6 separate regions of the Homo sapiens genome follow, and regions 1, 2, 3, 5 and 6 are each linked to region 4. The links come from fine-mapping of genetic effects on gene expression. A gene starts in region 4. Each other region holds a variant in brackets. All regions are shown on one strand. Distances are between the middles of the regions.

Region 1 (5,109 bases), 27 kb after region 4:
TAGACAGCCCTGATGCTCAAAGCACAGAGCAGGGTGGGAGAGGAGCTGAGAGAAGGTCTGGAGAGGCAAATTCAAAACACCTAGTTTCTAAAAAAATGTTATGGCAGGATATTTCCTGTGTGGTTACATAGATGTCATGTACATTTTCCAATCACAAAATGTGTCATATGTATCATGTAATATCATCCAGTGGATGACCAAGGACCTTATAAACTAAAACCATTCATTTTTTTGCTCTCTGTTCTAATCCCCCCATATACAGGGAAGTTGAGAGCTGTCAGAAGATTAGATGTGACCAGGGAATGGGTTTTAGGTTGTGCTTGGCTTCTGTCTCTCCTCAGAGTTGAGTGGGATGTGGATGGTAGTAAGACAGTGATACCAACCCCAATTCCTGCAGCTTTAGCCATGTATTACCTGTGATCCTCCTATGGGAGCCTAGCAGAATTGCTAGGACCATGAGCTCTGGGGCCAGAGGGCCTGGGCCCACATCCTGTCTCTACAACTCACTCACTCCATGACCTTCATCAACTTAAGTGACCTCCCTGTGCCTCAGTTTCATCCTTTTTAAATGAAGATGATAAATCACCCCTCTCATTATGATTATATTGAAGATTAAATAAATGCAAAGTGCTTTAGCCCAGAGCCTCAATGCTCAGTAAACATTCTCAATAATGTGATGGTGATGATAACATTATCGGTGTCGATAGTCTATAAGGATTTGGGGAAAGAGTGGCTAATTTTCTGAAGCCCACAGTTTTGCAAATCAAGAATGAGGATCCAGAGTCTCTCATGTAAAGGGTCCTTATGGAGATAATAGTGAGAGTGTATTTGACACTGTGACAGCTATGACAGTTTGTGGTACATTGGGGTCCTTGTAAGTCTATGCAGGAAGGGCTGGTGCCCTCTGGAGCTGGTGCCAAGTCTCTGAGTTGTGTCTCTGTTGTGCCAGCCTGATGGCAGAGAGCTTGACCACGGCAGCTCTCCAGGGCAGGCAGCCTCCAGAGATCTCAACCTCAGCCTGTATCTTGCATGAACCCAGGGGCCCAGGTGCATCCCATGGCCTCCCGCAAGCTGTCTCATCCACTGTGTCTTCAGGGACAGGCCCCGCGGGGACTGAGCACTCAAGTCTTCCTGGCCTGGTCTGGTTTCAGGGCTTCCAGCGGCTGAAGGCTGCCCACGCGGCCCTAGAGGAGGAGTACCTGAAGGCTTGTCGGGAGCAACACCCTGCCCAGCCGCTTGCCGGCTCCAAGGGGACGCCTGGAAGATTTGATCCTCGCAGGTACCTGCTGGGGTGGAAGGCCTGGAAGGACAGATGGGATGGGCCCCTGGGGTCCCTCAGTCTCCAGGAGGGAGGCACTTTGTCCTTATAATTTGTACACGGGGAATAGAGAGAAATCTTATCCTAATTAGTATACATATCCAAATGGTGGCACGATCAAAAGCTGTGATTTGAGTCCCTTTGGACCCACGTGCTGAGAAGATGCCTTGAAACCCTTATTGGATGATGGGGAAACTGAGGCTAGATGGGGGTGGGATTTCTCTAATGTCCCACAGCCTGTGGATGGCAGAGGGGACTTGGGCTGAGACCTCCTGATTCCCAATGGAACCTTCTTTCATCTTGCTTATTTTGAGTTCTCACCATCATCTAAAGGCTGATATTAAATGGACCCTAAGGGGGCATCCCCTGGAGTCTCTGCTCTGATACTCTGTTCCTGGACCTGCCTGATGTAGCTGCCATCTTGGGCTCCTGGTGGTAATGTTTCTGCATTCCAGGGAGCTGGAGGCAGAGATATACCGTCTGGGAAGCTGCCTGGAAGAGCTGAAGGAACACATAGACCAGACCCAGCAAGAGCCTGAGCCGCCCGGGTCAGACTCAGCTCTGGACAGCACCCCAGCCCTGCCCTGCCTCCATCAGCCAACGCACCTGCCTGCTCCTTCTGGACAAGCCCCCATGCCAGCCATCAAGACCTCCTGCCCTGAGGTACCTCTTGGCTCAACCATATTGGGCTGTTCCCTCGTGCATTCATTTCTTCGTTAATTCATTTCTTCAATACGTATTACATATTTATGAAGTGTGTGCCATATGCCAGTGTGTGCCAAATATGTAAATATTACATATTTATGAAGTGTGTGCCATGTACCATGACACATGGTAGGGATTCAGTGGGATGGGAGGTGGCAGGGAAGGTGGCGTCTACCTTCACAGAGTTTTCTGTAGAGTTGAACTGGTTACAGTGATTTAGTTATAATTTTGGTCAGTGCACTGAAGGAGAATTATGGGGTTCTGTGAGAGTAGCAGGAGTAACATGACTGAGTTTGAGGAGGAGGTCAGAGAAGCTTTCCCTGAAGAAGTCATGTTTAAATGAGACCTGAGACTAAGTAGGAATTACTAGAGACAGAAAGAGAAAACCCATCCAGCAGGGAAAACAGCTTGTGCAAAGGCCCTGTGGCTAGAGTATGGGAAGAGAAA[G/A]GAAAAATAGTCTGAGATGTGGCTGGAGAGGCAGGCAGGGGCCCCATGATGTAGGGGCTTGTGGGTCACGTAGAGAGCATGGCCTTAAACTCTGCTGGATTTTCTGGCAGGGGATGACATAAGATGACTTGTGGGTAGGCCAGTCTGAGGCTGGGGAGGTGGCAGGGCAAATGGAGAAGCATGTGTGGACTTAAGAGAGGTTGGGAAGGTATGTTTGAGTGGACTTGGAGTGGCCGTGAGAGGGAGGAAGGGAGACACGGATGGCTCCAGGTTTCTAGCTTGTAGTACTGCATGGATAATGGGGTGAAACCTAGACAAGAGCCCTACACAAAAGGGGCTTTGTAGAAGGCTGTCTGGCCCACACCACAACCCCTTGAGAGACAATCACTATCTCCGTTTTGCAGGCGAGCAAATTGAGTGTAGTGCGTTCACACAGATGACAGTAGTGGGGTCTCTATGCCTCCCAACTCCTGTTGCCTGTGCTGCAAAGACTTGTCTGTTGAGGATGGGAGCAGGAAAGAGAGCCTGGCATGCTGGGTAGGGTGGGACACTGGTAGGACATCCCTGACAGCTGAGGTCATGCTGGCCCTATGGTTTGGGGAAAATCTTGTGCTGTGCTCTGGCCTAGAGGGTAGGAAAACTCTACCAGGTGCCACTACACACTTGAATGGGGAGAAAACCTGAGTACAATATCTTAAGGGACCCTCATGCTCCTGCAGTTGAAGGTATTGCAGGGGGCTGGGGTGGCCATGCTGGAATGGATGGGGGTCAGGAGAGTTAACTCTGGCAGGAAATCTAGGTTTAAATCTCAACTCTGCTCCTTGTTTCTGTTGACTTTGGGCAAATCATTTGAGCGTGAGTTACCTGTCTATAAAATGGTTTGTAATAATCGTAGGTACTGGTGGGATTGTTGTGACATGGTATCTGTATGGTGCCTGGCACACAGCAGGTGCTCAATTCATGGCAGCCAGTATCGAAGACCACACAGCCCAGTCTCCATAGTTTACACATACATAAAAGGGTGGTGGGCTTAGTGAGTCTAATGTGCTTCTTACCCCGCAGCCCACAGCTCGAGCCTGGCAGGAGGTAAGTGCTTAAAAGTGGTGTTTAACTATCTGCTGAATCTCTGTCTGTCCATCTTTCTGACCCCAGCCTGCTACCACCACTGCCGCCGCCAGCACTGGCCCCTGCCCATTGCACGTAAATGTGGAGGTGAGCTCTGGCAACAGTGAGGTGGAGGACAGGCCACAGGACCCCCTGGCCCGACTCAGGCACAAGGAGCTGCAGATGGAGCAAGTTTACCATGGCCTCATGGAGCGGTGAGTGCCACCTGGACCTGACCAGGGTGTCTGGCCAGCAGCTGGATCTTGGCTGTCCCCCACTGGGCAGAGGTCATGCCCCTCTGTGTGTTCTTCTGCAGGTACCTCAGTGTGAAGTCTCTCCCAGAAGCCATGAGAATGGAGGAGGAGGAAGAAGGAGAGGAGGAGGAGGAGGAAGAGGGGGGAGGTGACTCCCTGGAAGTTGATGGGGTGGCTGCAACTCCAGGGAAAGCAGAGGCCACCAGGGTCCTCCCAAGGCAGTGCCCGGTGCAGGCTGAGAAAAGTCATGGGGCTCCCCTGGAGTAAGTCACTGAGCCTTTCCTGCAGAATGTTTGTTTCCACCCTAAAACCACAGGGATGATCACTGTCAGAGTGAATAAGACAGCGCTTCACAGTTTAGACATGGCTTACCTGTCCTGCCTCTTCAAGTGTGGAATGTATACCACTGATAGCCCTTGAAATGATTTTGGGTAGTGTGGGACATGATTTTCAGTAGGACACATGCAGTATTAAAGAACATTATTCTCAGCTGGGCACAGTGGCTCATGCCTGTAATCCCAGCATTGAGGGAGGCCAAGGCAGGTGGATCACTTGAGTCCAGGAGTTCAAGACTAGCCTGAGCAAAACGGCAAAGCCCCATCTCAACAAGAAATACAAAAATTAGCCAGGCATGGTGGTACACGCCTATAGCCCTAGCTATTTGGGAGGCTGAAGCAGGTGAATCTCTTGAGCCCAGGAGGCGGAGGTTGCAGTGAGCTGAGATCGGGCCACTGCACTCCAGCCTGGGTGATAGTGTGAGACCCTGTCTCAAAAAAAAAAAAAGAAAAAAGAATATCATTCTCTTTTTCTGTCTCTGACCTTCTAATGATGCCAAGGAGAAAGTCTCAGTTAGTGCTGTGGTGTCTTTTTTATTTTTCTTTTTTTGTACTTTAAGTTTTAGGGTACACGTGCACAACGTGCAGGTTTGTTACATATGTATACATGTGCCATGTTGGTGTGCTGCACCCATTAACTCGTCATTTAACATTAGGTATATCTCCTAATGCTATCCCTCCCCCCACCCCACAACAGCCCCCGGTGTGTGATGTTCCCCTTCCTGTGTCCATTTGTTTTCATTGTTCAATTGCCACCTATGAGTAAGAACATGCGGTGTTTGGTTTTTTGTCCTTGTGATAGTTTACTGAGAGCTGTGGTGTCTTTAATGCCTCTCTTGAACTTCTGTGGAAAAAGAGAGAGAGAGACAGTATGAGAGCACACAAGGCCTAGAGCATTTAGCAGGCAAGTGGATCTATCTAGTATATGATAATATTCAGGTTTCTT
Region 2 (5,109 bases), 37 kb after region 4:
AAGAGTCAAAAGGTTAAAAACCATTTAAAAAGCTTATAAAGTAAAAATGTTACTGTAAGTTAAACTTGATTAATTATTGAAGAAAAAACTTTTGTATAAATGTTGTAAATTTAGCCTAAGTGTATGGTGTTTATAAAGTCTACAGCAGTGTACAGTAATGTCCTAGGCCTTCACATTCACTCACCACTCACTCACTGACTCACCCAGAGCAACTTCCAGTCCTGCGAGCTCCATTCATGGTAAGGACCCTTTACAGGTGTACCATTTTTAAAATCTTTTATACCATATTTTTATGGTCTGTTTTCTATGTTTAGATACACAAATACTTACCATTGTGTTACAGATACCTACAGTATTCAGCAGGCAATGTTGTAGAGGTTTGTAGCCTACAATAATGGGCTATTCCATCTACCTCACATATGTAATAGGTGTGGGTAATCTATGATGTTTGTGACATGGTGAAACAGAATAACAATGTGTTTCTGGGAGCTTATACCCAATATTAAGTGATGCGTGACTATACTTAAAACAGAAATGAGGCTGGGCACGGTGGCTCACGCCTGTAATCCTAACACTTTGGGAGGCTGAGGCGGGTGGATCACCTGAGGTCAGAAGCTCAAGACCAGCCTGGCCAACATGGCAAAACCCCATCTCCACTAAAAATACAAAAATTAGCCAGACGTGGTGGCTGGCACCTAAAATCCCAGCTACTCAGGAGGCTGAGGCAGGAGAATGGCTTAAACCCGGGGGCGGAGGTTGCAGTGAGCTGAGATTGCGCCACTTCACTTCAGCCTGGGCGAAAGAGCAAAACTCCATCTCAAAAAACATAAAAAAAAAAAACAAAAAATAAGATCATTTTATATGTGAATATTTGGCGACCTCCTTTTTTCACTAAATTGTACTATAAACACTTTCCATGTCTATGAAATCTATATGTGATTCAGTTTTTGACCTTTAGAAATACACATGAATTATTTATTGAAATTAAAAACCACCAAAAAGAACTTAAATTGATGAGTTTTTACAAGGTGAACAGACACCAAGAAACTCAGTATGATCTGAACCCCAGAACCTCACTGAAGTCCCATTTAGTCACTACCTGCTTCCCAAACATAACCACTGTTCTGACTTCTGACACCTCAGATTAGCTTTGCCTAAAAGGTTCATCTTTTTTTTTTTTTGAGATGGAGTCTCGCTCTGTTGTCCAGGCTGGAGTGCAATGGTGCACTCTCTGCTCACTGCAACATCCACCTCCCGGGTTCAAGAGATTCTCCTGCCTCAGCCTCCTGAGAAGCTGGGATTATAGGCACGCGCCACCACGCCTGGCTAATTTTTGTATTTTTAGTGGATATGGGGTTTCACCATGTTGGTCAGGCTGGTCTCGAACTCCTGACCTTGTGACCCGCCCGCCTCGGCCTCCCAAAGTGCTGGGATTACCGGCATGAGCCACCACGCCCAGCTGGTTCATTATTTTAAAAACGTTTTTAATTAAACTTTTTTTTTTTGAGATGGAGTCTCACTCTGTCCCCCAGGCTGGTATGTAGTGGTACGATCTCAGCTCACTGCAACCTCCACCACTCAGGTTCAAGTGATTCTCCAGCCTCAGCCTCGCGAGTAGCTGGGACTACAGGTATGCACCACTGCGTCCAGCTAATTTTTGTATTTTTAGTAGAAATGGGTTTCACCATGTTGGCCAGGCTAGTCTCAAACTCCTGACCTCAAGTGATCCGCCCGCCTCAGCCTCCCAAAGTGCTGGGATTATAGGTGTGAGCCGCCACGCCCGGCCTTTAATTAAACTTTTTATTTGGAGATAATTGTAGATTCACATGCAGTTATAAGAAATAATACACAGAGATCCCATGTGCCTTTACTCAGTTTTCCCCAGTGAGACTATCTTGCAAAACTGTAGTACAATGTCACAGCCAGATGTTGACATTGATGCAGTCAAGATACAGAACGTTCCATCACCACAAGGAGCCTCATGCTACCCTTTCATAGGCACACCCACTTCCCTCCTGCCCCCAGCCTGTCCTTAACCCCTGGTAAGCACTAATCTGTTCTCCATTTCTATAATTTTATCATTTCAAGAATGTTCTATAAATAGAATCATATACTATGTAACCTTTTGGGATTGGCTTTTCACTCAGCATAATTCTCTGGAGATTTATCTAGATTATTCTGTGTATTAATAGTTAGCTCCTTTATATATTGCT[G/A]AGTAGTATTCCAAGGGTTTCATTGCTTTTATTTTTTATTTATTTCTTTATTGTTTTTGAGACAGGGTCTTGCTCTGTCACCCAGGCTGCAGTGCAGTGTCGCCATTATGGCTCACTGCAGCCTTGTCCTCCCTGGCCCAAGCGATCCTCCTGCTTCAGCCTCCCAAGTAGCTGGGACCAAAGGGGCATACTTCCACATCCAGCTAATTTTTTTATATATATAATTTTTTTTTTTTTTTGCAAAGATGGGGTCTTTCTATATTACCTAGGCTAGACTCAAACTTCTGGGCGCAAGCAATCCTCCCGTCTCAGCCTCCCAGAGTGCTGGGATTACAGGCGTGAGCCACCATGTCTGGCCAGTTCATTGCTTTTAATGCAGGGGACGGATTAGTGGTTTTTAACCTTTGGTCACCCATCCCTTTGGGAGATTCGTTAAAAGTTATTAATGCTCTCCCCAGAAACATGCATACGTGGAAAGAGGTGACTATAATTTCAGAGGAGGCTCTGAAGCCAGCCCCACAAAAACATGGTGAGAAGGTGATCAAGTCTTGAGGAACCCAAGTGAAGAAGTGATTAATTCTTTGCAGGGGAAGTTCCTGAAGACTCGGATGGTGTCATGGTGGGTGGGAGGAGGGGTTCTGGTTAGAAACAGCGGGGCAGGCCCAGCTCAGCACCCCACACTCCCAGCAAAATCTAGATCTTCTGGTTTGGAGGTCAGTGTGGGTCATTGGCCTCATCAGGAACTTCCTTTGTGACCTTGAACTAGGCACCGTCTCTTCACTTCCCCCATCATTCCACCTGCACAAGTGTGAGCTTGGAAGTTCTCTCTGCTTAAACTCACTTTGGGTTCTCTCTCTGCCTCCCTAGCGGTTCCTGGCTCAGAGTTTGAGGGGCACAAACGGATTTCTGAACAGCCCCTTCCCAACAAGACAATCAGCCCACCCCCAGCCCCCGCCCCTGCCGCTGCGCCTCTACCCTGTGGACCAACAGAGACCATCCCCAGCTTCCTGCTCACCAGGGCAGGGCGAGAGTAAGTTAGACACTTGGATCCTGGGGATTCAAGCTCATCATACAGACGGGAGCGTGATGCGACGTGTTAGCAGGTGGAGGTGGAGACCTGCCCAGCTCACACAGATGGTGGTGGTAGGAGCAGACGGACCCAGGTGTCCTGCCTCCCAGTTCCCAGCGTTTCTGTGGGACCTCATTGATCTAGACATCGAGGACACACTTCTCCAGCCAGTGGAATATGACCTAAAGATTCACCTTTCTGGTGCTGACACTTATGCCCTCTCTCTCCATCATCTCTTTTCCGAGAAAAGCCTGTCCTTTCTAGGGCTATCTTTTCTGCAATTTGACCATTGATTGTATGGACCAAGAAGCTACTGCCTTCTGAGTTTTTCTTTTCTTTTTTTGGTTCGTGTGCATTTTTTCTACTAAGAAAGTTCCACTTCCTTGGTTGAACAGAAATGGTAAAATCGCTTGGTCAGTTCTCTCACACCTCCTCTTAGTTGCTTTTGGCCAGTGATCACTTACACACCCTTGCTGGAGTGGGTGTCTGTCCCGGGATGCGCTGGGGAGACTGCTCGGTGGTGGCCCAGCCAAGGTTTCTTTGGCTCGAACAGGCATGAGGCTGTCATGTTGCCTACGTGCAAAGTTGTGTCCAGCTGCTGGTGTTTGGCTTCCTTGTCTGAGTTTAGTAAGTCTACCCCTGCAGCCTCCCCTGACATCAGTGGAGGAATTAGAGGCTTGTTTGTCTAGGGTATGCCAGGCCTTGGGAATACAATAGTGGACAAGACTCTATCCTAGGCCTCTTAAAGCTTACCATCTTGTAGGATGAACAGACAAAGAAACAGGCAGTAGTGCCCTCCATTGTGATAAATACCATGATGGCAGAGGACTAAAGGACTGTGGGAGCACAGCGAAGGAGCATCTGGTCCGGTTAGAGGCTTCAGGGAGGGCTTCCTGGAGGAAGTGGTATCTCAGCAGACATCAGAAGGAAGAGAGATAGAAGAGTATCTTCAGTGGAGGGAATGGCATGTGCAAAGTCCTAAAGGTGAGAGAGTGCCCATCACCTTGGAGGAGCTAAACGGTCAGCCAGATCCTCTAGTGTGAGGGGGTGGAGTGTTGAGCAGTAAAGGAAGAGAGGGGTAGAGAGGAGAGACCTATGGGAGATCCTACAGGGCCTGAAGGCCATGGGTAAGGGGAGACATTCACTGCATATTCCATGAGTGCACAAAGGCTGAGAGGACAGGGAAGGGGATTTTAAGCAGGGACGTAGCGTAGGCAGGTTTATGTTTTAGAGTTCTCTGGCCACCGGCAGGGTGAGAACGGAGACCAAGAGACTGCTGAGAAGGCTGCCACATCCAGGAGAGAGATGATGGGGACTGGGTTCTCGGGGAGGGCCCCTACAGAGGGGAAGAAGGGATTCATTTGGGAAGAGGTATTTTGGAAGTTGGGCCCATGAGACTTGGTAACTAATTAACTTCAGGGATGTTCAGGGAAGGAGGGGATCTAGAGTGACTCAGAGTTCTGTCTGGCTAGTCAGGTAGATGCTGCTGCCATGTGCAGAGACAGGGAAGTAAGTTTGCAGAGAAAGATGAATGTTAAGTGCCTGCTGGCACTCAGTAAGAAACTAAAGAGTTACATCAGAGAGACTGAGATACCCAAGTGGCTGACTCACGCCCCCGGCCTGGTAAGTCTTTTTTTTTAGTGCCTTCTGACTAGGAGGCGGAGCTCTCCATTTCAGGAGTTAACTGGGGGTGGGGAGATGTCACTCTCCAGTAGCCACCGCCCACACTTGCCCTCGTGGCTTTGCCTCAGAAACACCAGCAAGCGTCTCCCTGGGGATTACCAAGGGAACCCACTGCCCTCAGACACACACACTCAGCGCTGGGGC
Region 3 (5,000 bases), 35 kb before region 4:
CTGGCTCTCCTCTCAGCCTGCAGTCCCCACACCAGGGCCCTCCATTGGCAGGACATGACCTGGGCACATCCCTCTCCTCTCTTGGCCTCAGTTTCCCCATGGAAAGCTGAAATACACCATCCAACTGTCTCATTCTTTATTTGTCCCCAAATTACTTAACTCATTCTATAGACCTTAGTTGCTTCATCCAAAAAGTGGGGACCATAACCCTGCCCTCATCCCAGATCTGTGCAGATGAAAGAGAGGGAGGGAGAGGGAAAGAGAGAGATGCTTTGGGGTGTATTTGGCCAGAGGCCACCAGGCTGGATCCCATGAAGAAATCTGGGTGAGAGGGTCTTAAAGTCATAAACTGAGATCCAGTTGCCAGGTGGCTGCATAGTTGCCAACAGTGTAATGTGTCACCTTTTGATCTTCATCAGAAATCTCAGGCTGGTGGCCACCTGGCCAAATACACTGCAGAGCATGTCTGTCTGTCTGTCTGTCTGTGTCTCTCTGTGTGTGTGTGTGTGTGTGTGTGTGTGTGTGTGTGTGTGTGTGTCTCCCCCTTCCCTTCCTTTCACCTGCATAGTATTAAACATTTTCAAAGTTACTTGCCAACATCTAGAAAGATACCAGGTTTTCTATAAAAAAAAAAACTGGATTTCTGGATGCTTCTTAAAAATCAGGAAGTCTGGCAGCCTGAGCCCACATCGGCTGGAGCTGAGCCGCACCTGCGAGTTGCATCTGGGATCTCCAGTTCACCGGCCCCTAAGCTCCTGAGGGTTGGCCTGACCCTGAGGTTGCCTGTCAATCACCATTTCTTCCCTCCACTCCTTGTGTTACCTGCCTGGTCCTGCGGGGTTGGCAACAACTCAGGAGCCCACCTCGGGTGGTTTTGGAGGTGCCGTGCACACTGCTGATTGGGAGGCTGGACGCTGCCAGTCTGTCCGGAGTTTCCTTTACCCCTGAGTAGCCCCCAGACTGAACTGGCAGCGAGTGGAGGCCACGATGCATGGTTCTCTTGAAGCTTTGCTCTTCCTGCCCCAAGTCACCCTGTCCCTTGCCCACGCCCATTTGATCTGCTCAAATGCACAACTGGAGATGTGTGTCTTTCCCCACAGGTTTCTTGGCGATCTCACAACAGAAGGAATAAACAAGGTAGGACATCCTCTAAGGGGTATTCTCTGCTTCCTCACAGCTCCCTGAGTGAGGAGGTCTGGCCAGCCAGAGGGTGCCGAGTGACTTACACTACCTCATTCCAACTGGGCAGCCCCTTATCTGCCCACCCCCCAGCCCACTTATCTGTGACTGACTGCTAGGTTCTGGGCACTACCTCTGGCACCAGGGTTGATGGCAATGAACAGAGCAGACCAGGTCCCTGCCCTCATGCGGGTTTTACTCAGTGAAGGAGATGTAAAGACAAAACAAATTCTAATTAAGAAAGATAGTACTATCAAGGCAAGGTGCTGGGGGTTATGAGGGAGAATAACAGATGAAACACCACACTTAGACAGGATGGAAGGGCAGAGGGGGAGTGGCATGGCCACTCAGCTCTAGAGCAGCTAAGAATTCCTGGGCTTCTATCTTTCTGTCTTGCAGCCAGGATTTTACAAGGGCCCAGCCGGCTCCCAGGTGACCCTGAGCAGCCTGGGGAACCAGACACGAGTGCTGCTGGAGGAGCAGGCTCGGCACCTGCTGAACGAGCAGGAACACGCCACCATGGCCTACTACCTGGATGAGTACCGTGGTGGCAGCGTCTCTGTGGAGGCCCTCGTCATGGCCCTGTTCAAGCTGCTCAACACCCACGCCAAGGTGACCCGTGCCCTGCCTCCCAACTGGCTTCAGCATTTCCAGGGCTCTGCATCCTGCCCTGCCCCCGCTCCTTTGCTGAGAACCTACAAGGGGTCAGGCCTGAACTGAACACTGGGCAGAGACCTGGGACTGAGGCAGCCTCCTGCCCCCAGGATGCTCACAGACTCCTGGGGGAAACAGACATTTAAAGCGCCCTGTGATTGGGTCCCTGTCGCAGTGGCTTCCAACGCTGAGTGCACAGAATCACCTGGATTGCTCTTAAAAGCAGTGCTCGGGCCCCATTCCAGGCTGGTTAACGCCTCATATCTGGGGATGGGAGCCAGCTGTCAGTCATCTTCACAAGCCCTCCAGGTGACTGTGCTGTGCCACCAGCTTTGAGAACTCTGCTCCAAACTGTTTGAGGTCCAGAAACTGTACAAAGGAAGAGGTGGTGAAATCCACTGGGAGGGGTTATGTTTCGGAAGACTTAACAGAGGAAATAGGATTTGGAGATGAGTATTGGAAAGGGTATTCTGGGTGGAAGGTTCAGACAGCCAGAGGCTTTGTGGCATGAAATGTTGCAGTGTGTCCAGGGAGTCACAGCTACATGTGCTTGCTGAGGAGATGACAGGGAAGCAGGAGTGAGATGATGCTGGGCCTGGTGTCCAGGTGACGGTGTTTGGCCTTTCTCTTGAGAGCACTGGGGAGCCAGACAGTTAAGGAGGGGAGGCAGGGTCAAGTTTGCATGCCAGTCCTTTGGGGGTAGCAGGGCCCCTGTTCCACCTTCTAGTAGCGCTCCCTGCTGAGTGCCCCTTTTGTCCCCGCCTCCAGTTCTCACTCCTCTCTGAGGTGAGAGGCACCATTTCCCCGCAAGACCTAGAACGCTTCGACCACCTGGTGCTGAGGCGTGAGATTGAGTCCATGAAGGCGCGGCAGCCCCCAGGCCCCGGGGCTGGGGACACCTACTCCATGGTCTCCTACAGTGACACGGGTTCATCCACAGGCAGCCACGGCACCTCCACCACCGTCAGCTCGGCCAGGGTGAGCTTCTTCTGCCTTGTCCCTGGCTTAGTAGCCAGGGCAGAGTTAAGATGCTGGCTTTGGAGTGAGACCAGCCTGAGTTCGAATCCCAGCACCACCACTTACCAGCTGTGTGCCTTGCCTCTCTGAGCCTCAGTTTCTTCCTCTGTAAAAACCTAATAGTTGTTGAATGTCTACTGCATGCTAGGCATGGGCTCT[T/C]GGGGACAACAGGTGAACAGGAGAGATGTGGCCCTGCCTCCTGGGGCTTGCAGTCTGGGAAGCTGGGGGAGAAAGGTTAAAAAAAAAAAGTAGGTAAATTAGGCAAATAGAAAAAGATCATTAGAATCCTTGGGAATGCCTCTGGCATGGTGCCCACTCCCGCTGGGCACTCAGTAGATGGTAGTGGGCATGGTAACTTGGACTGTGATTTTTATTTTCCCCAAGAGGCCACCCTTTTGTCTCTGGAGCCCAAGCCCAGTTTGACTTTCTTTTTGTTTTTCGAGATGGCTTCTTGCTCTGTCACCCAAGCTGGAGTGCAGGGGTGCAATCTTGGCTCACTGCAACCTCCACCTCCCCAGTTCAAGCAGTTCTCCTGCTTCAGCCTCTTGAGTAGCTGGGATTACAGGTGCCTACCACCATAACCAGCTAATTTTTGTATTTTTGGGTAGAGACGGGGTTTTGCCATGTTAGCCAGGCTGGTCTCGAACTCCTGACATCAGGAGATCCACCCACCTCAGCCTCCCAAAGTGCTGGGATTACAGGTGTGAATCACCATGCGTGGCCCCAGCGTGACTCTCTTGCAGACTCACCAGCCCCCCAGCAAAGCATCTGGCCATCTCAAGATATGGTTCTGCCCCCTGGATGCTTGGAGGCAAATGAATCCCAGGAGACGTTTGCAAGGAAGGAGCAGGAGCATATGCATTGTTACCTGTCTTGGGAAACAACTGGTTATTAAGGTCCATGCAGTGGAAAAGTCAGGGCTGGAGGTCAGGAGAGCTGGCTTGGCCCCATGCTCTCCTCTATGCCCTTGTTTCTCACCGTTAGGTCATTCATCACCACTCTTCTATGGAAAGGCAGTGGGGAGAGTAATGTTTCTTAAGCAGGCGGTTGCTCCCAGATGCTGAACTGAGAGCTCTTTCTGGAGGAATCTCAGACTGGAGGTAGATACGGTATTAGCTGTCTTGTTAAGTGGGAGAGCAGGAGCTCAGAGGTGTGCAGTGATGGCCATGGTTATAAACACAGATGGTTAATGAGTGAGGATGAGCTTGCAGCCACCAGAAAATGGCCCAGGAGCATGCACCCTTCTCTTTTGCAAGCTCCAACTCCTAGTGTGGCTTTTCTTTAGCCCTGGGATTCTGGGTTTCTGGGGGTGATTCCTTTATACTCTTTTACCCCTATCCCTCCCATCCTGAGTTGCCATCATTTCCAAGGGTGCTCATCCCCTTCCTGGGATGTCCCCACAAGTCGCCCTGCATTCCTCTAGGGCTGGACATGGCTGCAGCAGAGGCAGTTCCATGTTCTGGGACAAGCAGATCACTTCTGGGGCAGGGAAGAGGCTGTCCTTCACCCCAGGCTCTGAGCACATACTTTGATATGGCATTTAGGTGAGGATCTGGTTTAAGGGTGCAGGTCCTTGGCCTGATGACTGTTTCTCTCTAAGATAGGCTCCACTGAGATTGGCCTTGATAATGTTCAGGCCTCAGCAGCCATGAGCCACTGCTCTAAAACCTGGGAAACTGCAGACTGTGCTTCTACAGTGGTCCCTTTAGAATCAGAGATGAAATATCCAGTGAATGGGGTGGGATGTGTTTTGGTCTGGGAGGCAGGAGGTCTAGGTTTGAGCCCCAGCCTTTCTGGTCTTCAGTTTCTGGATAAAATGGCCTGGGGTCCTTGCTGGCTCTGACTTCAGCAGCCCGAAGCCCTGAGGGCAAATCAGGCTGGAGTGCCAGGAGTCAGGTGACTATCTTGCCTGGCAAGGGCTCTGGGGCAGGGGTCAGGAGCCCCCAGCTCGGCACTGGCCCACAGCAACCTTGTCCCAGCTCAGGGGGCTCTCCCCTACCTGAGAAGCACCATCTGGGGCCAGTCCAGATCCCAGCTGTGGAAGTTGGCCCTGCTCTGCCAGAGGGGCTCTCACTGCAAATTGGGGCACCCTGGGGAAGGCAAGCCTCAGAAAGGCCATAGGGTGGTTTTATACAGGGAGTTTTTTGGGA
Region 4 (5,109 bases):
GAAATGGGGTTGTCACATCAGCCTCATTGGGTTGTTATGAGGGCTATGAGTCAGGCTTGGGCAAGTAGCTAGGTTGAGTGGATCATCCAGGATATATTTATTGTATTTCTATTGTATATCAGGGCCTGTGTGCTGGGTCCTGGGGATATGATGATGAGAGCCTCACAGAGCTCCCAACTGAGTGAAGAGACAGATGTTAATCAAATAATCACATATGAAATATAGTTCCAAATGGGGAGTCCCCAAGGAGGGCACGCTGGAGCTGACATCTGGAGGTTGCCTAGAAGTTAACAGGGAAAAGAAGTGGGACTGGGTGAGGGGAGGAGCAGGACACATCTGTCCCAGGAAAAGCAAGGAGGCCTGTATGGCAGGAGCATGCTGAGCAAGGGCAGAGAGGGTGGTGGGAGAAGAGGCTGCAGCAGCGGCCAGCTTGTGGAGTTTCATCTTCTTTCTCAGAGCCATAGTAGCTAGCTGTGCGTCTGAAGCATGGAAGGGTCTTGTTTGGAACTTTTATCTTGGAAGACCACATCGGTGCAGTGTGGGGAACAGATTAGTGGACCCTAGAGCTTTCCAGGCAAGGCCGATCCAGGGACCCACGTGGGGATGCAGAAACGGGGACAGATTCTGGTGAAATTTAGGAAATGAAATCACTGGGAGTTGACGATGGATTGGTTATGGGATGTAAGGGAAAAGGAAGTGTCCAGGGTCACAGTTGATTCTCAGTGTGTACCTGGGTGAAAGATGGGCCAAACTAAGGAGGGGTGGGTTTGGAGGGTGGCAATACTAGGAGCTCAGTCTTAGACATGCTGCTTCGGTTTGGTAGAATTTGGCCTGTGGGTGGGGACAGTGATCCAAGAGGGGGCAGTGCATGAGCAAAGGCAGGGAGGAGGGTTGGTCATGCTTGGGGGTGCAAGGAAATGGAACAGACTGCACTGCAGGCGGTTCTCCTTGGTGTTAGGTGGCTGCCCCTGAGATGGGTTTGGGGTTATCCAGGGGCCACAGGCTATGCCCAGCAATGGCAGCCACCTGGGTTAATGCTGCCTGGGTTAATGACCAGGGAGGGAGGGTGAGTGAGTGACAGGGTGTCAGGGGAGCCCGCCCCTTGCACAATGGCACACATGGCCTCCAGAGCTGATAGGGAGGGGCCTCATTAGGGTTTGGCTCTGCTCCATGTGGGGCTGGGGGCTACAGGGAGAGCCCTGCCACCCAGATGTGGGTAAAAGGCAGGAAAGGGGATAGAGGGGTGGGCGATTACCAGGATGAGGGCTCCTGGTTCTAGCCCTGGCTACGCCAGATATTCACAAGCTGACCTTGGGAACGTCCACTCATTCATTCATTCATTCATTCACAGAACACATTCATCAGCCATAAACAGTGTGCCAGGCTTCAGGAAAGATATTAAGATCTAGCCTTTAGAGGAGACCAGAGACTTATACCTAAGTAGCAGCAATAGTTGTAGTAGCAATAATAAAATAGCTCAATACATGACTGTGTTCTGGCTCCCCCGCTCTACCCTTGGTAGGCATCATGTCATTGAATCTTTATAGCAGCCCCTGTGGGGTGGCTACTCTTCTTATCCCTGTTTTACAGATGAAGAAACTGAGGCTTAGAGACGTGAAGCCTCAAAGGTCAGGGCCAGCAGGAGATGGGGCTGGGATTTGAACCCAGGTCCACAGTGACTCTGAGATTTTTTTCTCTCCTACATGGGTGGTTCCCAAATCTGGCTGCTTATCAGAATTACCTGGAGGGCTTTTTGGACAATACAGAGGCCTGTTTTTTTTCCTCTTTCTTTTTGTTTCCTGACTCAGAGTCTCTGGGTCCTGGGTGGGGCCAGTGTTGGGAGCCTCTTGTGCTCCTGTGCCCGCTTTTCTGTGAAGCTCCTGCTTCTCCCGCTTGACTCGCTCTGCCCCGGGTACACAGGCCTTGCTGTTCTCAGGGAAAGCCCGCTGGCTCCCCCACCTTGGCCTTTCCACTTGCCCTCCCAGAACACTCTGCCCCAAACCTTCTTGTGGCTTGCTTTTGACCCCTCTTCCTTCCAGTGCCTTATTTGAATGTCACCTCCTCATAGAGACCTTCCTGACCGTCCTATAACCCTTCTCCTCCAACCCATTACTCTTGGCCCCATGTGTTCTCTACCAGGGCCAGTCACCTGGGACACTTAAAATGTCTGATGCCCAGAGACTGACTCTGTTGGCCTGGGGTGAGCCCCAGGCTTCAGTGCCACCTGGCCTGGGACACGGATCGTCACCCAGTCTCATTGTTCACAGCTCTCTCCTTGAAATTATACATGTGCTTGCTTATTGTCCATGTCTCTGCTAGAGTGGAGAGCAGGGGACTGGCCTGTCTTCGGCCCTGCCATATTCCCAGGTGATTTAAAAGCACCCGCCACACAGTAGGAGCTCAGTGAGTACCTACGAATGAAGGAATGGGATGGTGGGGCTTGAGGAAAGATAGCTCGACTGACCATCAGGATCGATCTGTTCCCAACATCTGGTGAACCCTTGGAGGGTTCTTACAACAAGGGAAAGTTTACCTGATCCGCCAGGTTCACACCTCCATGCTGCCCCGAACATCCCACTCTGGCTGCAGGACCACCTCGGGGTGAGGACGGTGGGTTGAGATGGCAGGAATCACCACGGTCTCCCTGAGATTCAGGTTGCACATTGGCAGAGTCAGAGCTGGAAGGGCAGGAGTGGTGTTGAGTCTGAGCTCTCACCGTGCACATGGGCCCTGAGGCCTAGTGAGGGAAGGAGCCTCGGCTAAGGTCAGGCCGTGGTTGAAGAGGGCCTAGAGGGTAGGAGCTACAGCATGCTGTGTGACCTTGGCCAAGCCTCTGACCTTCTCTGTGCTTTAGTCTCCCCATCTGTACCTGCAGGGCCTGGGCTGAGATGATCCCAAGCCCAGGACGTCAGGAGTTTGTTCCCTGAGTCCTTTCCTGGGCAGCGCTGACTGCGGAGGGCTTGCAAGGGGTTAAGCTCCTCCAGCTCTTGCTCTGCACGCAGACAAACCCCCTCCTTCTGACAAACACTTGTAGGAAATCAGGCTGGGCGCTTCCTGCCGAGGCGAGGCGGCCTCAACCACGGCAGGGGCGGGGAGAGGTGGGGAGCGATGCTGGTCTGTGAGCAGCAGCTTGGGCTGGCAGAACGGCCTGGAGGTGGGCCAGGGCGCAATGGAGACAGGGGGCTCCCTGGGTTTGGAACAAAGAATTCACAGGCAGGTCCCCTGAAACTGGGTCGGCAGGACGGTGGTGGAGCCCGAGAGAGGTAAGGGATTGGAACGGAGGAGGGCCCGGGAGGCCGCTTTCCTTCTGGACGGGCCAGTCACAGACTCTCCGGGACAGTCCAGGCAGCCGGACCAGCCCAGCCAGGAAGTTGCAGCTGCTGGAGCTGCACCGCTTTTCTCTTGGCTTAGGGGATCCCGGCCTCCAGGGCAAGGGTGGATTTAAGGAGGATTTCGTCAAGCCTCAGGATGCTAGATTCCAGTCCTAGCTCTGATTCTGATCTCTTGTGAACTTGGGTAGGCGGGTCCATCTCTGTGCCTGGGGTGTCGTCGTCTGCACCTGGAGAGTTAGTGTCCTTGGTTGCTAAGGGGTCTCAGAGACGATGCAGGCATGGGCAGCAGGCCAGGAGGCAGCGACGGCGCCGGGGGGTGGTCCCTATTGAAGGAGTGGCCCCTTATGCCAGCTGCGTAAGAGCAAGGAGAGGAGCCAAGGACAGTCCGAGGACCAGCAGACCCAGCTCAGCTCTTGAGGATGGCAAGACCAGAGCTGGCAACAGCCAGGGCACCGTTTCTCTTTCTCCTCGGCCTCTGCTGCTGGAGCGGGCTGGGGGCAGGGAGGACACAGAGAGGGAGTGGCTGGTGCTTCCTTGTGGGACTAGAGTCCACACAGCTGGTGGGAACCCCTTGAGAACAGCAAGTCTGTGCCCTGCCAGCAGGTGGGTGGGGGTATGGTTGAGCCTTTTTGGAAGGTCTGGTTACTGATTTGGGGGGTGGTCTTCCTTCCCCATCTCCCTGACACATCTGACAGCCTTGGTTTCAGAGTTGCGGTACCCCAGCTTTGAATCCTCTGTCTGCGCTTCCTGGCTGTGAGGTCTTGTGAGAGCAGGCCATGTCTCTGTGCCTCAGTGTCTTCATCTGGGAGGTGTCAGGGTGTGGGTGGGGGTAGAAGCAGGGTGGCACCCTGGACAGCTCTGGCTGGATGGGAAGGGGCTGCAGAGGGCACGGGGAGGCTGTGCGGGCTGCGTAGCTGTGCTGGCAAAGGAGAGCCTGGGCGTCTGGGCAGTTCTGAGGGATTGAGCCATAAAGGGAAGGGTCCCTGGCTGTGGAATGACTGAGCGGGCGGAGAAGCCCTGTGTGGGTGGTGGGGAAGAAGAGTCCATCCCACCCAGGAACTGAAGATAGACACCTCAGGGGTCTGTTAGACCCTTGAGAGAGCAGGGGCAGTGGCGGCTTGGGTGTAAGAAGGAGATGTGCAGAAGGAGGGTGCAGTGGCTGCTACTTCCTTGTGGGGCCAGTTTCTCCAGGGATGGCGGGGACCCTGAACTCCATAGCCCTCCCCAGCTCACACTGCTGGAGTCTTCACCAAACCCCACTCACTGCCTTTTAGGAGCAGCCCTGCTGCCCTAACGAGGGCTGGCTGGAACAACTCTGCCTTTATCTGGCATGCAGGGACACCTGCCCATAGCTCTCCTTCAAGGTCAGGCCATACTTTCAGACCTACGTGCCTTTGCCTCCGTGCTGTTCCCGCTGCCTGGAATGCCCTCCCCAGTCTTCTCCCCCAAATCCTCATTGTTTCTCAAGCCCACCTTAAAGCTTCCTTTGGTAACACTTCTGTATTGTACTACCCCCCACCGTTTAAAATCTTGGAACACTTTTACTCTTTTCTATATTCTTTGCATCTTACGTAGCGCCTGGTATATAGTAGGAAGTCATAGGGCTTTTTTAAAAAGTTAATTTGCGCCCACTGGGTGCTCAGTATGTATCTTTGTACTTTGAAATGTGACCTCAGGGAGGAGGAGAGAGGTTAACAGTTCTGAGGCTGTTGCCCTTAGAAGCTGAGTCAATCAGGGACTTCAAAGCTCTTTGAGTCCCATACCCTGCCTCCCAACC
Region 5 (5,109 bases), 310 kb before region 4:
GTGAACCCGGGAAGTGGAGCTTGCAGTGAGCCGAGATTGCACCACTGCACTCCAGCCTGGGTGACAGAGCGAGACTCCATCTCTAAATAAATAAATAAATAAAATCTTCAATGGAACCTTTGTGAAGCTCAACACATCTTCAATTAACATGCTGAGGATTGTAGAACCATATATTGCATGTGGGTAGCCAAATCTGAAGTCAGTAAATGAACTAATCTGTAAGTGTGGTTATGGCAAAATCAATAAGAAGCGAATTGCTTTGACAGGTAACACTTTGATTGCTCAATCTCTTGGTAAATATGGTATCATCTGCACGGAAGATCTGATTCATGAGATCTATACTGTTGGAAAATGCTTCAAACAAGCAAGTAACTTCCTGTGGCCCTCCAAACCATCCTCTCCAGAAGGTGGAATGAAGAAAAAGACCACCCATTTTGTAGAAGGTGGAAATGCTGACAACAGGGGGGACCAGATCAACAGCCTTCTTAGAAGAATAAATGAAGATGTCTACCATGATTATTTTTCTAATCTGGTCAGTTAATAAACAGTACCTGCTCTTGAATTGAAAAAAAAAAAAAAAGGAAAACTCAATTATCAACCTTAGTTTTATCTCCTTTAAAATTTGTATCTTATTTAAAAAATATATTATCAGAAGCTCAAAGAACCATGAAGCCTGGGTTAAAATGCAGTAAGCCGGGATCATGCCACTGCACTCCAGAGCCTGGGCAACAGAGCGAGACTCTGTCTCAAAAAAAAAAAAAAAAAAAAAAAAAAATGAATTCTTAAAACTTTTTCTGGCTGAGCACAGTGGCTAACACCTGTAATCCCAGCACTTTGGGAGGCTGAGGTGGGTGGATCACTTGAGGTCAGGAGTTCAAGACCAGCCTGATCAACATGGTAAAACCCTGTCTCTATTAAAAATACAAAAAAAAAAAAAATTAGCCAGGCATGGTGGTGGGTGCCTATAATCCCAGCTACTCAGGAGGCTGAGGCAGGAGGATGCCTTGAGCCTGGGAGGCAGAGGTTGCAGTGAGCCAAGTTCATGCCACTGCACTCCAGACTGGGTGACAGAGCAAGACTTAGTCTCAAAAAAAAAACAAACAACAACAACAACAAAACTTTTTCCTTGGCCTTCTCTCTTGCTGACAAGTTCTATAGTACTTAGAAATTGCCCAAGAGAGATTCCTACTTCTGATGTGTTTTGTTCTTGGTTTGCTTTTGTTTTTTTCCTGAGTTGGCAGAGGTGGGACTGAAACACATGTCCCTTGCTTCTCAGTTCAGTTCTCAGGCCACAGCACAACTGTTTTCATGTTATAAGCTCAGGACCTCTGAAAAGGCTTCTCATCTCCAAAATAGACTCTTCCCAACCTGAAAGTGAAGCTTAAGAAGCCTTTCGCAATGACTCACTCAGAAGCAAAGGTTCCCCAACAGAGAAGCAAGTCATGAAATAAACACCCCACAAGCTCCAAGCACCCCCGTGTGCCATGCGCAGTCTCCAAGCCAGGAGGGTCTCAGAGAACCGTAGAGCCATGGGAAACTGCTCTCTAGTGCTTACTTTCCCCCTGTATTGGACACGGTCAAGAGAACTTCCTCCCCTGTCTGCCTTTTTTCGCTGCCTTTCCATCCATCCCTCCATTCATTCAGTCATCCATCAACAATAGATTGGATCCATTAAGGCCCCAGCTTTCCTTCTACCCTACACCCATGACATAGATATAAAAGTGAGGTGTCCTCCTACTCTGTCTCTGGGCCCTAGCCATGTTTCTTGTTTTAGCCAGCAGAAAATCAGAGAACATGGCACAAGCAGAGGCAAGAAAAATTACTAGCATGTTCCTATTTATCCCTTGTAGCCTCTTCCATGGGCATAAGCCAGCCTGCTGGAAGATGAGAGACATGAACCAGGGTCAAGTCACCCAGTTGTCCCAGCCATGCCCATTATAGACCATCCAGTAGCCAGCCAACTGCCCTGATGTATGACCAACCCCAACCAATTTCAGCAGAACTGGCC[G/A]GCCATCCCGGGCACAAGAGCAAGAAACAGGCATTGCCATAAGCCACTGAGGTTTTGTATTTATTACTAAGCATTATTGTGGCAATAAATCACCTCTACATTCCAGCTAGCAGGAAGGAGGAAGGACAAAAGAATGTTTCCAGAAGTCACATAGGATGCTATCAGTTATTTGTCATTGGCAAGAACTCAGTCTCACAGCTGCCTCCACTGCAGAGAAGATTGGAAAATAATGGTCTTTATTCCAGACAGTTACATTTCCAGCCACAAATTGCAAGTTCTATTATTAAGGGAGAAGTGGTGAAAGGAAACTGGGAAACAATTAGAAGTCTTGCTGCAAGTGCAGACAGGTTTGGGATCAAACAGACGTAGGTCCATATCGCAGCTCAACCAGGGACTCAACTTGTGACCGTGGGCAAAATGTTTCCTTCTCGGGGACCTCAGTGTTCCTATCTATACAGTGGGAGCAAGGGAGAGTTAGTCCGCATGGGCTCTTAAGCTCCTCCTGGCTCTTTCCTTGCTAGAAATCAAAGTGAAGATTTTGAAGGGGTTGGCCTTCCATCAGATGCTAGCAAAGATGAACCTATTTACACACCTAGGTGACATTGCCCCTTCAGTCTGAAGCTATTTAGTGAACAAAAAGGCCAACACCTAGCAGAAACTTGTGTTGGAAAAAGATCTGCCTGGGCTCGCTCTTGCTGCTTTTCAAGTTACATAGAAGCAGCTGTCTGGTGCAGGCATCTAGTCCATTAAGGCCTCTAGCTATAACCCTCAAGCACCCAGTAGAGGTCAGAGAACAAAGATCCAATTATGTTGCTCAACTCCTGCCTGGGACTCCATCTAAGGAAGCAGAGACCCAAAAAGATATGGAAAGGGAGTGGTCTGATAGTCAAAATCCAGCCAGGCAACATTTATATGGTCCTGTTTGGAGTAGGAATAGAGAAAACTACATTTTAATTTACCATCATCAAATTACATAGCCCATATGTGTACTTTATAAAGAGGAAAGAAACCTTTACTCAGAGTGTAATTACAGCTTTCTAAAAGTCCTATAAATCTTTATAGTTCTGCAATGAAAGAAACTTCCCACTTTATATTTGATAAATCAGACTTACGTAATTTACAACTCAAGAATCCTCTTACTTTTACTCTAAACCTCAAGTGTACTTATCTCTCCCCTTGAGGAAAAAAAAAATTCAAAATAGCACTGAAGCCCAGGGCCCTCAGAATGCTCTATCTGCCACAAAATTCACGACTGTCCTGAATTTTGTAAGAAATGCATGAATTATAACAACAAAACAGCAACATTAGGTATTGAGTGTTTACTCTGTGCTTAAAACTTTGAGTTCAATGTTTCAATGCATCCTCAAAAAGCCATTAGGCATTACCATGCCACTTACAGGCATGGACACTGAAGCTCAGAGAAGCCACATAAGTCATCTAAGGTCACACAGCTAACATACGGTGAGCTGGGATTTCATCTTAGATAGTTGTCTCCACAGCAAAGCACTTGGCACAGTGTCTTACACATAGTTAATGTCACAAATGTTACTATTATGCTTACTTTCCTTAAAATGATTTCTGCCAGTCAGGCACAGTGGCTAACGCCTGTAATCCCAGCAGTTTGGGAGGCCGAACGGGCGGATCTCTTGAGGTCAGGAGTTTGAGACCAGCCTGAACAACATGGTGAAACCCTGTCTCTACTAAAAATACAAAAAGTAGCCAGACGTGGTGGCAGGCACCTGTAATCCCAGCTACTCAGGAGGCTGAGGCAGTAGAATCACTTGAACCCCAAGGGTGGAGGTTGCAGTGAGCCAAGATAACATCACTGAGCTTCAGTCTGGGCGACAGGAGACTCAGGCTCAAAAATCAATCAATCAATCAATCAATAAAATGATTCCTGCATATATTTGGGCAAGGTGGTCCCACAGATTCCTTAACCCACAGTGTCTAGATGATTTTCATTGGCAAACCCATAATTTTTCCTGTAAGTTTCCCACATCCCTGCCAAAGCCAGAAGATTTGTCTTATTTTATTGGTTTCTGAGAATGTTGATTTCACTTTTTAGGGTTTCATCAGAACAATCTTAAGAAATAATCTCCTCTGGCCAAGCGCAGCAGCTCAAGCCTATAATCCCAGCACTTTGGGAGGCTGAGGTGGGAGAATTGCTTGAGTCCCAGAGTTAGAGACCAGCCTAGGCACCATAGTGAGACTCCACCTCTACAAAAAATAGAAAAAATTAGCCCAGTGTGCTGGTGCATGCCTTTAGTTCCAGCTACCCAGGAGGCTGAGGTGGGAGGACCACTTGAGCCAGGGAAGAAGAGACTGCAGTGAGCCATAATAGTGCCACTGCACTTCAGCCTAGGCAACTGAGCAATACCCTGTCTCAAAACAAACAAAAGAAAAAAAAAATTTCTTCCATATCTCTGAAAATTAGCACACTGTCTTGAAATCAGTTATAAGGCTCAGTATAGAATCATCATGAAGAAGCTTTTGAGCTTCATGAGCACAAAAGCATAGAGAGGTGGGTGGCTACCGAAAGACAGCACAGTGTGTCATCGGGGAAGGCACAGAAGTCTTTCCAAGATACAGCACACCATGCAGTTCAAAATGTAACTTCATACATGCCAGCTCTTTTTGCCCTGAGCAAGGTGGGAATTGTGGGTGTCATTTTAAAGATGAGCAAATGAGACTCAGAGAAGGAAAGTGATTTGCCCTGCATGGGAAAGGCAGAAGTCTGAATCCAACTAGGGGTGGGTAGTATGTTTGGCCATGGACATTCCAGATGACTTGGTGACAAGAAAGCATGTGTGGAAGGAAAGGGAAGCCATATTGACTCTGAATCACATGCTGCCCTACACTGCGGCGGCTCCTTCCTCCTTCTCTTCCAAAAGGGAAGCACAAAACACAGCACCAAGAGGAATGCCCACCAAGTGCTCCTGAGAGATGACCTGCACTGTAACACTGTTCCTTGGGCCATCTATTGGGGGAGAGAGCCTTAGAAAGGGACGGGCACCACCTCTTCGGAACCTAAGCCCTTTCCAATGCTGCCCAAGAAGCCTCAGAGTGATGCTCTCTAGCTTCGCTCCACAGCAAATAATGGC
Region 6 (5,000 bases), 90 kb before region 4:
GCATAAAATTTCAGTGTGTGTGAATTCTATCATTTATTCAAACAGCCAGATGGTGCTGCCATAACAAAATACCATAGACTGGGTGGCATTAGCAATAGACATTTAATTTCTCACAGTTCTGGAGTCCAGAAGTCTGAGATCAGGGTGCCATTGTTCTCGGGTTCTGGTGAGGGCCCACTTTCAGACTTGAAAACTTCCATCTTCTCATTGTGTCCCCACATGAAGAGAGACCAGAACTCTCTCTTCCTACAAAGCTACTGATCCCATCATGAGGTTCCTACCCTCATGGCCTCATCTAACTCCAGTTACCCCCTAAAGGCCTCATCTCCAAAGTACCATCACATTGAGGATAGGGCTTCGGCGTATGGATCTGGAGGGAAATACATTCAGTCCCTAACACAGGCTATGTTTATTGTTAATCCTAGTGCTTAGTGAGTGTCTCCTTGGGTCAATGTCTTCATCTCAGCTGCAAGCGTCTTGTGGTGAAGCAATATGGCAGACCTCAGCTTCCACCCCAGGCTGTAGAGTTTTGGGCTTGCCTCTCCTCACGGTGGTTCCATCTGAAGACTGGGAAATGTACAATAAAGATGGTGTTCCACACTCAGAATTAGTTGCTATAAAAAAGGAACTTCTTTTTTTTTAATTAATTATTACTATTTTTTTGAGAAGGAGTCTCATTCTGTTGCCCAGGCTGGAGTGCAGTGGCACGATCTCAGCTCACTGCAACCTCCACCTCCAGGGTTCAAGTGATTCTCTTGCCTCAGCCTCCCAAGTAGCTGGGATTACAGGTGCCCACCACCACGCCCAGTTAATTTTTGTATTTTTAGTAGAGACAGGATTTTGCCATGTTGGCCAGGGTGGTTTTGAACTCCTGGTCTCAGGTGCTCTGCCTGCCTCAGCCTCCCAAAGTGCTGGGATTACAGGCGTGAGCCACCACGCCCGGCTGAGAAAGGAACTTCTTACTCACTGTGTGGGCAGGCAGTTTCCCTCCATTTCTTCATCTGACAAATGAGATCCTCCTTCCCCTCTGCAGTCCCCCTCCCCCATTGGATTTCATTAGGATTTCATGAGATAATGCATATCAGGTGCAGCGCAGAGTGGCCGACACATACAAGCCCTTTATAAATGTTAAGCGATTGCTATCATTGTTTTTATCTGTCGACTCTGTGCTTGGTATTTTATCAGAGTCCCCAAGATGACACCTGGGTTCAGTGATTCTCTAGAAAGGCTAACAGGATTCAGCATATGGTTGTACCTGTGGCTAGGGTTTATTACATCCAAAGGATACAGAGCAGAATGATCACGGGGAAAGGGTGCATTGGGCAGAGTCCAGAGGAGACCAGGCACAGGCTTCCACGGGTCCCCTCCCTGTGAGTTCCACAGAACACACTAATTCCTCCAGCATCAAATGGTGACAAAGGTGTGGGATGTTGTCTATCAGGGGAGCTCATTAGAGAGCACCCACAGTTTTTATTGGGGGCTGGTAGACATAGACCCTGTCTACTTGTACCCACCTTCCAGACTCCCAGGAGGAAAGCAGGCTGAGCATAAACCATTACTGTTTACAGACAGTCTAAGCACATGAGCCGCATTTCTCAGTCAGGGAATGGTGGGACACTCCCCAAATCCAAGTTCCGAGATGCCAGCCAAAGGCCGGCCTTGTAAACGAGCCTTCCTGAGGATAACAGTGTCAGGCCTGCAATGCAAACTCCTCCGCAGAGGTATCCTAAAAGATCATATTTCTTGTATTTGGACCACTTCAGGATGGGGGTGGGACAGATGTTCTTGTTTTCACAGGACAAAATCGAGGGCTAGAGAAGGAAAGGGACTTCAGGGCTGGCCTCTTCTTCCATGTGGGGCTCCTGAGAAAAACCAAGGTCTGGGCCAGGGGAGGGTGTTC[C/T]TCCACACCCCCGGCACCTCCCTTCCTCTAACCTTTGTATCCCTCTCTCCCTAGGCTCTGAAGGGCTCCAAGAAGCTGGTGCTGTCTGTGTACTCAGCAGGGCGCATCCCTGGGGGCTACGTCACCAACCACATCTACACCTGGGTGGACCCGCAGGGCCGCAGCATCTCCCCACCCTCGGGCCTGCCCCAGCCCCACGGTGGTGCCCTGAGGCAGCAGGAGGGTGACCGGAGGAGCACCCTGCACCTCCTGCAAGGAGGGGATGAGAAAAAGGTGAGTGGGGTGGGGAAAGGAGGCCAGCCTCTCAGACACCGTATTCTCCCTCCGAACCCAGAACAGCAGAGCTGCTTGGAGGCCGCAAGAAGAGGCTGGTTCTGTCCAGGCTCTGTCTTCCCTCAAGTCTGTACTGAAGGGTGGTGTTTTTTCTTTGCTTTTCTTTTTGACCTGTGTAGTGTATGTTATAATACAGGCTAAGCTGCCACAATAAAAGAGCTTAAATACTGTGATTTATTTATTGATTGGCTTATTTATCTATTTGGAGACAGAGTCTCACTCTGTCGCCCAGGCTGGAATGCGGTCACGAGATCCTGGCTCGCTGCAACCTCTGCCTCCAGGGTTCAAGCAATTCTTGTGCCTCAGCCTCCTGAGTAGCTGGGATTACAGGCGTGCACCACCATGCCTGGCTGAATACTGTGATTTAAATGAGAGTTTTTTTTTTTCTCCGTCATGTAACAGAATAGAGGGACAGTCTCATCTGGGGGACAGTTCTGCTCCAGGACTTATCCTGGGACCCAGATTCCCTCCATCTTCCATCCCCCAGGGTCTTGCCCCTTCTCGTGGTTGAAGCTGGGCCACATCAGGTCCCCTTTCTACCTCCCAGGAAAGGGAAAGAGAGGCATCTCTTTAATTTCAAGATCACCAAACTTCCCACTGGCCTAGACCCAGGTGCATGGCCACACATAGCTGCCAGGAATGTGGCCAGGATTGCTGCTCCACAGGGAATCTTGTGCAGTGTGAATCTTGGGCATAAGTAACAGAAACCAGCCCTGGCCATTTTACAGAGCAGGGATGTACTGGAAGGACAGGGGCAGTCCCAGAATTGAAGCCGAGAATCTCAGGGTGCAGCCTGCAGTAGGGGGATGTCCACCATTCCGTTCTCAGTGTCCTTCCCCTGAAGATTCCCAAAGAGGGAGCACCTCACGGGCTGGCAGGGATGTCTAGGGACTTTGATTGACAAGACCACCAAGACTGTAGCCAGTGGGAGAGGGGTGGTTGCCCAAAGCACTGTGGGGTGTTCTAACTTGCAGAAGGGGGCAGGGACACCAATAGATGTCCCCTATGGAGCCCTCCTGACCCCAGACCTGTACTGTTTCTTGAAACACAGGAAGGCTGAAATGGTCCCTGATATCTTACCCTTCTCTCTGGGTGCTGTTTGCATTGCACCCCTTGGTTACTCCTGGAACCAAGAACATAGCTCCTGCAGGCAGCTCCCTGGTGTGTAGGACCTTGACACTGACTGCCAGGAGGCCACATGGCTTGGGGCTCTGGGCCAAGTGCCATGCCTCTGGAAACTCTTTCTCAGCTCTCCTTTTCCTGTCGATAAGACTGTAACATTTATTTAATGTGTTTTGTGTTCTTTGCTGAAACGTCAATATGCAGGACGCGGCAGAGATCACAGCAGCTTCTATTGGAGGTGAGCGGCAGCAGGTAGCTTGTTGGTATGCACCACAGCAGCCCGGGCCGCGTCAAGGTTGCCAGGGCTGGGTGGGCTCGTACCCTCTCCCCACCAGGGAACTTGTTCTCTGACAATCTTGAGAGAATGCTGCCAGTGGTTATTGAGTCATGATCAAGGGCAGCTGTCTAGTGTTGGGCACAGAACTTGTTTTATCTTTTTCTCAGTCCCTTTTCTATGCAGGGCATGGGGTGAGTTGAGCTTATCATTGATGGAGAGCCCTTGTGTGCCCAGCCCTGTGCTCACAGTGTCTTCCTGAGTCCTCCTCGCAGCCACACTGGGAGGTAGGTGTCATCATCCCCATTTTGCAGATGAGGAACCTGAGGCTCAGCGCTGTGGCAACCACAGCCCAGCCAGCAAGTCTCCTAGTGTTTGCTGAGCACCTGGGTGCTTGACGATGTTATGGGAGTGGACAAGAGCACTGGGGCCCTGCTCTTGGGAAGCATCCAGAGTTTGGAGGTGGTGGGAAGAGTGAGACAATAATCCCAAAATGAGCACCAGTGAGCAAGATAATTAAGACAGTGCAAACTGATGGGAGGAAGTGAAATCAGGAGCCGGGTAGAAAGTGCCAGGGAGGTACGGGCTGTTTTGATTGAGGTGATCAGGGAGGACTTCTCTGAGGAGACGGCTTCCGAGCTGAGACCTAGAGAGGGAGAAGGAGCTGCCATGTGCCATTCGGGGACTGAAAATCCCAAGCAGCAAGGACAGCATGTGCAAAGGCCCTGAAGTAAGACTGAGGCCAGTGTCTGCAAGGATTGAGCAGATGGGAGGGTGGGGGTTAGGTAAGGTGCCTCTGGGAGTCTCAATAACTCATATAAGAATGTGGGGCTGGGCACAGTGGCTCACACCTGTAATCCCAGCTCTTTGGGAGGCTGAGGCAGGAGGGTTGCTTGAGCCCAGGAGTTTGAGATCAGCCTAGGCAACGTAGTGAGACCCTGTCTCTACAAGTATTTTTAAAAAAATTAGCCGGGTATGATGGCATGTGTCTGTGGTCCCAGCTGCTTGGGAGGCTGAGATGGGAGGATCACCTGAGCCCAGGAGATTCAGGCTTCAGTGAGCTGTGATTGCCCCATTGTACTCTAGCCTGAGCAACAGAGTGAGCTCCTGTCTCAAGAATAAAATAATGCAGAGGTGAAGGCTGCATGAATCATACTCCAGGGAGGACCCAGATACCGAAGGAGGCAGGAGACACCCTGAACCATCCCAGAGACAGGCCGTCCCAGATTCCACAGCCCCAGACTGGCGCATCTACCCTCCTCCCTGTTCCTCCTCTTCCTGACACAGTGTGGAAACCCCATTTCCCTATTGGGAAGGGGCATGAGCTGATGTCTCTGGATCCCTGGCTGCTGGATCCTGGGTAAGGGGCCT

Alleles and levels. Positions count from the first base shown, and alleles are read on the strand shown. Sizes are in standard deviations (SD) of each study's normalised expression. Not every link is listed here.
For the expression in monocytes after interferon gamma of the gene that starts at base 3,141 in region 4, C is the low allele of the variant in region 3 and T is the other (small effect, 0.32 SD a copy in Fairfax 2014).

What was found.
Region 1: its variant is fine-mapped to the expression of AKNA in whole blood (INTERVAL, PIP above 0.99).
Region 2: its variant is fine-mapped to the expression of AKNA in whole blood (INTERVAL, PIP above 0.99).
Region 3: its variant is fine-mapped to the expression of AKNA in monocytes after interferon gamma (Fairfax 2014, PIP 0.95).
Region 5: its variant is fine-mapped to the expression of AKNA in whole blood (INTERVAL, PIP above 0.99).
Region 6: its variant is fine-mapped to the expression of AKNA in whole blood (INTERVAL, PIP above 0.99).

Annotation. Positions count from the first base shown.
Region 1 is chr9:114,358,576-114,363,684 of GRCh38, reverse strand. It overlaps AKNA (AT-hook transcription factor), which reads left to right. Exons shown (of 22, transcript NM_001317950.2): 8 at 1,152-1,279; 9 at 1,774-1,981; 10 at 3,623-3,789; 11 at 3,891-4,091. Among named protein-coding and RNA genes, the nearest start is that of AKNA, 27 kb to the left of the region's middle. The variant G/A (reference allele first, on the strand shown) is at 2,471.
Region 2 is chr9:114,348,993-114,354,101 of GRCh38, reverse strand. AKNA (AT-hook transcription factor) reads left to right here. Exons shown (of 22, transcript NM_001317950.2): 15 at 3,081-3,243. Among named protein-coding and RNA genes, the nearest start is that of ORM2, 22 kb to the right of the region's middle. The variant G/A (reference allele first, on the strand shown) is at 2,214.
Region 3 is chr9:114,421,125-114,426,124 of GRCh38, reverse strand. It overlaps WHRN (whirlin), which reads left to right. Exons shown (of 12, transcript NM_015404.4): 5 at 1,101-1,137; 6 at 1,579-1,791; 7 at 2,602-2,811. Among named protein-coding and RNA genes, the nearest start is that of AKNA, 36 kb to the right of the region's middle. RefSeq lists an enhancer at 4,320-4,820. The variant T/C (reference allele first, on the strand shown) is at 3,010.
Region 4 is chr9:114,386,014-114,391,122 of GRCh38, reverse strand. It overlaps AKNA (AT-hook transcription factor), which reads left to right and starts at 3,141. Exons shown (of 22, transcript NM_001317950.2): 1 at 3,141-3,263. It overlaps LOC124902253 (a long non-coding RNA gene), which reads right to left and starts at 3,073. Exons shown (of 3, transcript XR_007061742.1): 1 at 2,870-3,073; 2 at 2,534-2,678; 3 at 1-280. RefSeq lists enhancers at 2,849-3,138, 3,179-3,308, 2,779-3,514, 4,329-4,478.
Region 5 is chr9:114,691,310-114,696,418 of GRCh38, reverse strand. LOC105376231 (a long non-coding RNA gene) reads right to left here and starts at 569. Exons shown (of 2, transcript XR_007061745.1): 1 at 1-569. RefSeq lists an enhancer at 4,648-5,109. The variant G/A (reference allele first, on the strand shown) is at 2,009.
Region 6 is chr9:114,475,726-114,480,725 of GRCh38, reverse strand. WHRN (whirlin) reads left to right here. Exons shown (of 12, transcript NM_015404.4): 2 at 1,955-2,173. Among named protein-coding and RNA genes, the nearest start is that of WHRN, 27 kb to the left of the region's middle. The variant C/T (reference allele first, on the strand shown) is at 1,901.